2 separate regions of the Homo sapiens genome follow, and region 2 is reported to be linked to region 1. Evidence: microRNA targets listed by miRTarBase, many of them from high-throughput screens and not tested one by one. Region 1 holds a microRNA gene; the other region holds the end of a gene's coding sequence.
The links. Region 1 holds the annotated microRNA hsa-miR-6821-3p (UGACCUCUCCGCUCCGCACAG, at 3,003-3,023, opposite strand). A microRNA usually pairs through its seed, bases 2 to 8, with sites in the 3' UTR of a target mRNA and lowers its output. Matches are read on the target gene's strand: a 7mer-m8 pairs with bases 2 to 8, a 7mer-A1 pairs with bases 2 to 7 and ends in A, and an 8mer does both.

Region 2: the mRNA of ENSA is a reported target of hsa-miR-6821-3p. The part of its 3' UTR that is shown has no 7-base or 8-base seed match.

What each region holds. Positions count from the first base shown.
Region 1 is chr22:49,961,776-49,965,941 of GRCh38, reverse strand. MIR6821 (microRNA 6821) reads right to left here and starts at 3,076; the gene lies at 3,003-3,076. It overlaps PIM3 (Pim-3 proto-oncogene, serine/threonine kinase), which reads right to left. Exons shown (of 6, transcript NM_001001852.4): 4 at 4,131-4,166; 5 at 3,077-3,253; 6 at 1,870-3,002. The coding sequence ends at 2,815. RefSeq lists an enhancer at 234-734 and silencers at 3,308-3,827, 3,958-4,007.
Region 2 is chr1:150,619,321-150,623,401 of GRCh38, reverse strand. It overlaps ENSA (endosulfine alpha), which reads left to right. Exons shown (of 4, transcript NM_004436.4): 4 at 543-1,277. The coding sequence ends at 558. Among named protein-coding and RNA genes, the nearest start is that of ENSA, 8.3 kb to the left of the region's middle. RefSeq lists a silencer at 455-749.

The sequences.
Region 1 (4,166 bases):
AGGCCCACAGGAATCCTCCACCAGCTCCTGCCGCCCCTGGGCCGTGGTGCTCAGTCAGGCAGATGACCTGTGGCCGAGAGCCTGAGGAAGGACCCGAGGCTGGCTGGGCCCTGTCTCCTCCTGAGTCAGGGGGTGGAGGGCTATGTCCAGAGGCGCCCCCAAGCGCGCCATCCCCTGTGCTAGAAGGCCAGAGCTATCTCGCTGGGAGCCTCAGCCCAGCGCCCTGCACCCATTCCCAGGGCCCTGGCAGATGTCCCCACCCTGTAGGCCACCTTAGAGGGGTCCCCAGCCAGCCCTCAGCAGCAGTGTGTGGGGCACAGCAGTGGGAAGGACCAGAGTCCTATTCTGACATCTGCCCAAGGTTCCTGCCTCTCTGGCCTTCAGTTTCCCAAAAGCAATCTGCGTGGAGGGCCTTTGCCTGGCTGAAGCCGGGGCTGGGGATGCCCATGGCTGGGGGCTGGGGAATGCCCATGGCAGTTGGCCCAGGAGCAGGTGGGCCGCAATGGCTGCTGCCCGAGGGTCCCATTTTGGCAGTGGGGGGTGGGGTAATGGGAAAAGCCTCACTGGACCAGACTGGACTCAGGGCACGCTGGTTGGGCCAGGTCTATGGGAACCGGTGGCTTGTCCTTCCCGGCACCTCCTCATCTCCCCTGCTGGCCTGAGGCTGTAGGGTGAGATGAGGGCCCCGAGAGACCTGCCTAACTGAGCAGCTGCCCTCCAGGTGCTCCTGGATCTCCACAGCAGAGGCCACAAACACCCACTGATGTCCTGAACAGTCACAACCTGAGGCGGGAGCCCCCCACCCGAGCCCTCTCTGCCTGCTCTCCAGGGGAAGGGTGACTTTCGTCTCCTCCTGTTTCTCTTTCCCAAACTTCCCGCCTCTGCCACAGCCTCTGGCCTCGGGCCTGGGACAGTCTTCTGTCCAGTATGGTGCTGCCTGCCCCGGGCTGTTTATCAGGGACTCTTATTCGGAGGGGCAGATGGGAGGCAGGGGGCAGACAGGGCTCCAGGAGCCAGAGAGCCGAGTAGGTGCGCTTGGCAGACTGGGTGATGCCCCAGGTGCAGGTCCACTGCCAACATGGGGCACCCCACAGCCCAGCACAGGGTGGGCAGTTGAGCAGAAGGCCCCTGGGGTGGGGGTGGGGGAGCAGTCTCACTGGGACCCTCCACCCAGGCCTCCTCTACCCACCAGGAACATTGTGGCCAGGCCCATTGACACACCCGAACCTGGTTCATACCCCACTCTCTCACCACACACCCGCCAGGCCAGGGTCTAACTATAACTGACTGAACACCCCGATACCCTCCACCAAACCCCACCCTCATGTCCTCTGCACGTCCTTGGCACTGCCCGGAACACACTCCCACCCCATGTGCCTGGCAAACTCCTCCCTGTCCTTCAAAACCCCCAGCCACCCTCTGAGGCAGCATGGACTCCCTCCCCCACCCCCCCGCACGTCTCTGTTTCCACCAAGCCAGGATGCAAGTATGGCCATTTCCACTGGCAAGGCCTCCCTGGGTGGGGGCTGCAGAGATCCTCCTGGGACCACCGAGGAATGACCTCCTGACTAGTGTGGGTTGCTGCATCCTCAGGGCCTGGCTCCCTGCCTCCACCTCCCAGAGGCACCCCAGGAGGCAGCTGCTCTTCTCCCTGGGTGCAGCACGGGGTAGTGCGGTGGGCCACAAGCCACATGAAGTAGCCTGTGGCACTGGGGAGGCTGGCACCCAGCTGGGCCTCCCCCGTTTCCCCCGTGGGCAAAACTACCAGCCCCACGGGAAACTTGTCAGGTCACCCAGCAGCCAAAGCCCTTCCTCAGAGCCCCTCTCTTCCCCCAGGATGCCCAGCCCCATAAATACAGGATTATCCACTATGTACAAAAACATTTTAATTGAAATACCTGTATAAAAAAATATGATCTCCAGACATCTCACTTTTGAACTGAAAGAACCCCCATCTGCGATGCCTGCACACACCGCATTCACACAAACACAGGTACTGAATAAATTAAACGCTCAGGCTCTGGCCCCACCCCAGCTTTCAGAGCCCACAAGCAGACTGTACAAAGTCAATAATTTAAAACCCAAACCCTGGGCACAGTGCCTGGAAGTGTCAGGGTCACCCACTCCCCTTAAGTTAGCCACTATACATGTTCATCTTCTGACAGGCGGGGCCGGGACAGACGCCAGGCACAGGAATCAGGGCCTGGGGTCCCTGGACCACAGCCACCCCCTCCCCTGCCTCCCCACTGTCCCCTGGGGCTTGGGAGAGGCAGACTGCTCAGAGGAAATAACCTCAACAAATAAATTAAACAATAAATAGCCCCGGTGGGCCGAGGGCACCTCCAGGGGGTCACACCATAAATAACAGAGTTGGCGGCGGGTACGGCTCGCGTGGGCGGGCGGGCGCGGAGGCCAGGACTTGCATTGTGTGTGCAGGACGTGCCCAGACGCACACCGCAGGACTGAGGGCGGGAGGTGGGCTTGGGACCCTGCGCCGGCGGAAAGAGCTCCGGGTGGGCAGGCAGATGGGAAGGCCGCCTCCGGACACAGCAGCACAGAGGGGCGTCTGGGGTTCAAGTATCCACCCAGGGCAGGCGGGACCTCGACCGGAGCGTCTTTGGACAGACAGAGCTTGAGAAAACCAAGTCCCGCGGGACCAGCGTTCAAAAGGCACTCAAAGCGAAGGTCACCAGGGGTCAGAGGTCACTGCTTCCGCAGGAGGAGACGGCCCACGCAGGAGAAAGTCAGGGTCTGGGGGCGTCCCAGGTCTGGCCAAGGCAGGTGGTCCCCTAGCTCCCAGTCAGGTGCAGCTCCTCACAAGCTCTCGCTGCTGGACGTGGTGCTGGCCACGTCATCAGGGTCGAGGGTGCACAGCCGCAGGTCACAGCTCTCCGGGACGCCCCCGTCAGCCCCCAGCATCCAGGGATGGGCCGCAATCTGATCCAGCGACGGCCGCTCTGAGGGCCGCAGGGACAGGCACCACCGGATCAGCTGCTGGCACTCTGTGCGGAGCGGAGAGGTCAGGGAGGGCCCAAGCAGGGCGAGGCCCCCACCCCCGCCTCGAGCCACCACGCACCTGGAGAGACCCTCCTCCGGAAGAGCAGGCGGCCTCGGAGGATCTCCTCGTCCTGCTCGAAGGGGATGTCCCCACACACCATATCGTAGAGAAGCACGCCCAGCGACCACACGGTGGCCGAGCGCCCGTGGTAGCGGTGGTAGCGGATCCACTCCGGGGGGCTGTACACTCGGGTGCCTAAGGGGACACAGGGCTTAGCACGCCCACCACAGAGGCAGAGCCGCTCAACAGACGGCGAGGTCCCTGCTGGTTAACTCCCTGGCCTCAGTAACAGGAAGCAGAGCCAGGCCTCAAAATCCTGCTCGTCATCACCCTGGAAAAACCCCGGCAGGCGATGGGGGGGCTGGGGGAGGGGCCGGCCGTCCCCCTCCGCCGGCCGCGGGGGAGGAGCAGGTCACATGAGTAAGAGCTCGGCTTTCACAACAAACAGATGCGCTGTGAGGCTACCTGGGTGGGGGGGGGACAGCGCGGGTCCCTTACCGCCCGGCGCGCCTGCCTGCGGGAACGGGGGGAGGGGAGAGAGGGAGGGAGGAGGGAGGGGCGGGCGGGGAGCCCCGGCTTCCCCAAGCTCCGCAATGCGGGGATTTCTGCCGCCGCGCCCCCGCGCTCCGCACGCACGCAGCTCCCGCCCCCACGCAGGGGAGGCCCCGCCACTCCAACCGCGCCGCGGGGGCCTCCAGGCTCCCGGCGCAGACCCAGCCCGGCTGCGCCCTGCGTCACGCACGGAGACTCCTCCGCTACCGCCCCCAGCCGGGGGTCTCTCGGGCCGGAAGGATGTCACGCGCCTCCCACACCGGGGCAAGAGGCCCCGTACCCCCCAACGCGATGGAGGAAGCAATATTGAGCGCGCCCCTAGCCCCCACCCAGCACGATCCCGCTCTTGATCCCTCGCTCAGCCCTCCCCAGGGTAGCGCGTGGGCCTCTGCTCCCCACGAGAGCAGACCCAGGGCGCGCGGCCGCCCAACAGTCATCAGCCCCTCCATGTGCCGCCCCTGCAGGCGTTAACCCGCCGGCAAGGCCCCCGGAACGTTCCCTGCCCCGCGCCCGCGCTCACCGTCGAAGTCGGTGTAGACCGTGTCCTTGAGCAGCG
Region 2 (4,081 bases), not on the chromosome of region 1:
TTCTGTATTTGCCAGTTTCCACAGCATGAAGTACATAGCTTCCTTAGCAAGGAGTGGTCATTCCAAAATCCAAATGCAAATTGCTTTGATTAAACCTAGATTATTAAATCCATTCAGAACAGCATGTGTGTGGTCTGGTTCTGGCCTCCACACAGTCACCACCTCATCTCTGTGCTACCTCAGTCTTTGCAAGTAGCTGTGGCCATGCCTCTGAAACAGCCTGCTCTGAGCCAGGCAGCTTACCCACCTGGAAACCTCCAGTTATTTTGATCTTATCTAAAGAATTATTTTTCTATGTTTGTTATCCATGGATATCCCAGAAAGGCAGATAACGTTGTTTCGTGGATAGGAAAAGACTGAAATTCTATTTTTTGATTTTTTTTGCAACTCCCTTATGGATAGGATTGAGACATGCCAGGTAGCCTAATGGTTGTTAAATGTGGAGGAATCATGGGGTAGAGACTGGGTTGGAGTTCAGGGTTTTTTTCCCCTATTACTTGACAGTGTTGTTTTTTTTTTTTTTCTTCTGTGTTCGTCCGCAGTGGCCAAGTTGAATGATGCTGCCCGGGGCTCTGCCAGATCCTGAGACGCTTCCCCTCCCTGCCCCACCCGGGTCCTGTGCTGGCTCCTGCCCCTTCCTGCTTTTGCAGCCAGGGGTCAGGAGGTGGCTCGGGTGTGGGCTGGAGAGGCAGAAGCCCTTTCCTGTTGGTGTCCCAGCACATGGAGCCCCTTGGGCTGAGCACCAAGACCTTGAACCTTTTTTGTTTTACCTTTTTTCCAAATAACAGTTGGGAGAAATATCAATGAAATTCTGGGGGTGGGGGTGGGGTTGAAAGGGTGGGGTGGGAGATATGGAGGAGTATGAATTAGGGCTTGGAGTTGGTAAAAACATTCCTGACTATCCTTCTTAACCACGTGGCTGATGTGGGGTAGGTATGAGGGGAAGGAAGTGGAGTAGCCTAATGAAAAGGGGTTCTAGTTGAGCTCTGTAGATAAATGCCTTGTTTCAGTGTGGTTGGAGACCTGGTGTCAGATAAAAGAAACTCCATCCGCACAGACAGATGCAAACAGCTCCTCTAGTTCTGCAGAGCTAGTTGAGAACTCAACATTAATCATTTTAAAAAGTACTGTCCTTGAAATAGATTTGCTGTGGGAAGAAGGGCAGTGAGTGTGGGAGAAAGGAGCCGTGAGCGTGGGGAACCCCACAGAGCCCAAAGGACTTTTTCAGTATTCGAAATAAACAAAACAAAAACCCATGAAAAAACCCAACCCAGAAATATTCTGAAGCAGTTGGTGTGTTTTATTGGGGTTTGGGAGGGGGAAGAAAACAATACTGAAGACATTGTTAATGTGAGATGCGGCTGAGTTCCCCAATACCATCACTTAGGAAAGGGAGCAGGAATGTTGGCATAAACCTTGCCCATCCCTTTGTTTCTGTAACCAATGTAGAAGGTGCATCAACCTCAGTTTGTGGCTCACAAAATGAGGCATTTAAGATATTTGATCTAAATGGTTTCTTGACACCTAAGCCTAGTCCAGGTTTAGCAGAAAAGGAGGCCCAGTCTCCTTTTCCCTCTGTCTTCCATTCCTTTTCAAGTTCCCATGTTTGTGAGGGAGAAATGTGACAAACCAAAAGAAATATATTATTTCTTTGTAATAAGCCAAAAGAAACTCAAGTCTTTCTGCTGGTGGCCAGCAGGAGGCAGAGTGATTTCTTTCCTCATGATGTGCCAATCTGCATTGCTGGAAACCTGCTACTGAAAGAAGTTAAAAGCTGCCTGTGAATGTAACGTACAAAAGAAAGGTTACCAAAGGAGAAAAAACTCCAGCGGGTGTACGGTGGCTCACGCCTATAATTCCAGCACTTTGGGAGGCCAAGGTGGGTGGATCACTTGAGGTCAGGAGTTTGAGACCAGCCTAGCCAACATGGTGAAACCCCATCTCTACTAAAAATACAAAAATTAGCCGGGCGTGGCGGCACATGCCTATAATCCCACTTACTTGGGAGGCTGAGGTAGGAGAATCGCTTGAACCCAGGAGGCAGAGTTTGCAGTGAGCCGAGATTGTGCCATTGCACTCCAGCCTGGGCGACAGAGCGAGACTCCATCTAAAAAAAATAAATGAATAAAATAAAACAAGTACAAATTTAAACTAGAGACACAAGTTAATGGTGTTTATTGTGGTGGGGTTAGTGAGCCATCCCATGATTTCCTCCTGAGTATGTTATCCCTGGTTTGTGTTTGCCAGCTGGGGAATGAGGTGAGGTCTATGAGGCTGAATGTGGGATCATTCAATTTCTTTCTTTCTTTCTTTTTTTTTTTTTTTTTAGAGGCAGGATCTTGCTCAGTCACCCAGAATGGAGTGCAGGGTGCAAACACTCACTGTAGCCTCAACCTCCTGGGCTCAAGTAATCTTCCCATCTCAGCCTCCCAAGTAGCTGGGACTACAAGCACACACCACCACACCTGGCTAATTATTTTTTGTAGAGATGAGGATTCACCATGTTGTCCAGGTGAGTCTCAGAACACAGGCTTAAGCACTCTTCCCATCTCAGCCTCCCAAAGTGCTGGGATTACAGGCATAAGCCACTGCGCCTGGCTGAGAATATATTTTCATCCTTTCTTTTGTAGAGAGGATCTCGTTTTGTTGTGTAGGCTGCTCCTGAACTCCTGGCCTCAAGCAGTCTTTCCACCTCAGCCTCCCAAAGTGCAGGGATTACAGGTGTGAACCACTACACCCAGCAGTTAGTGCAATTTCATTTTAATACAAGTGAGGAAATTAAGGTATAGAGATAAGTTACTTGTAAAGTAGAAAAGCTAGTTAGCTGAAGAGCTTGAGTTAGTATCTTAGGCTTTTATATTATTTCTTCCCACTATTCCTGGCTTCCCTGGTCCTCAATTTTAATTTGTGGCCTTAAGAAGCCTGGGGTGCCAAAAATGTTTGGGGCTATCTGTATTTCATGTTACTCCTTAGCCTTTTTTTTTTCCTTTTAGTTCTTCACCACTGCACACTTGGCAGGATGTATCCCATTTTAAAACTTGACAGTCCATCTCCTTCACTCCCATACTGTAGGGCTAGGCAAGCAAAGCAAACTGATTCTGCAATGCTTCTAATAGTTATTCCTGCTCATTATTTTAGCTAGATGTATTCTAAAGTCTTTATCCCAAAGAGTTGAATCAAAGGTTCTTCCACTCCTCCAACCTGATTGTGCTGACAAGCCACTAAGCTGAGCCATCTAATATACAGGGTGGCAGGGATGAAGTCACCGTTACTGTCCAACAGCTTTTATTTTAAGCTGGTGTGGGCTGGGCATATCAAAGACAGGCAAAGAAAAATAACTTGGAGAGTTGCCATTGAGGATATATCCACAGTGAGCCAACAGCACCCACACAAGCAGCCCTCGTCTGTATAATGCCCTCTACTGGGTCTTGAGGGAGATTAAAAAGAAAGATCTCTTCCATCCTGGGGAACCTGAGATATGACAGCAGCACACAAATACAGGCAGATTTATAGTTCTAAGCAGAGTTCCAGTAGCTAAGCTAAGGGAAGGAGAGTCAGGAGATAAGCTGTTAGCTGAATTTTATTAAAGACAGATGACTTCACTAGTAAAGATAAAGTGGGACCTCCCGTGGTTGGGCTGCAATATTTTAAGTCCCAAGTGACTGCTGAATACTCGCTTTGCAGTTGGAAAAATAAGCTGTTTTTGGCCAGATAAACAGTGTAAGAGGTCATCTCTGCTCTAGAGGAACATGTAACCTAATTGAGACACTTCTACATATAATGCAAGATAGCATATGGTTAGTCAAGTAGTAGAATTCTGAGAAGAGAAAATCTGACTGGACTCATTAGGTAAACATAAGTGGTGGAAATGGACATTTAACTGGGCCTTGAAAGGTGGGTAGTATTTAAACAGTGCAGTTACTTAATAAGTGTCCACAATATGCCTGGCATTGTGCTAAAATACAAGGTAAATTGTATGTGGCTGCCTCTTTCAAGGAGATTACATTGTAGTGGTGACCTACACATGAAGAAATCATATTACAGTGTTAAACTTACAGCAGTGGTGGTCTAGCTATACAGA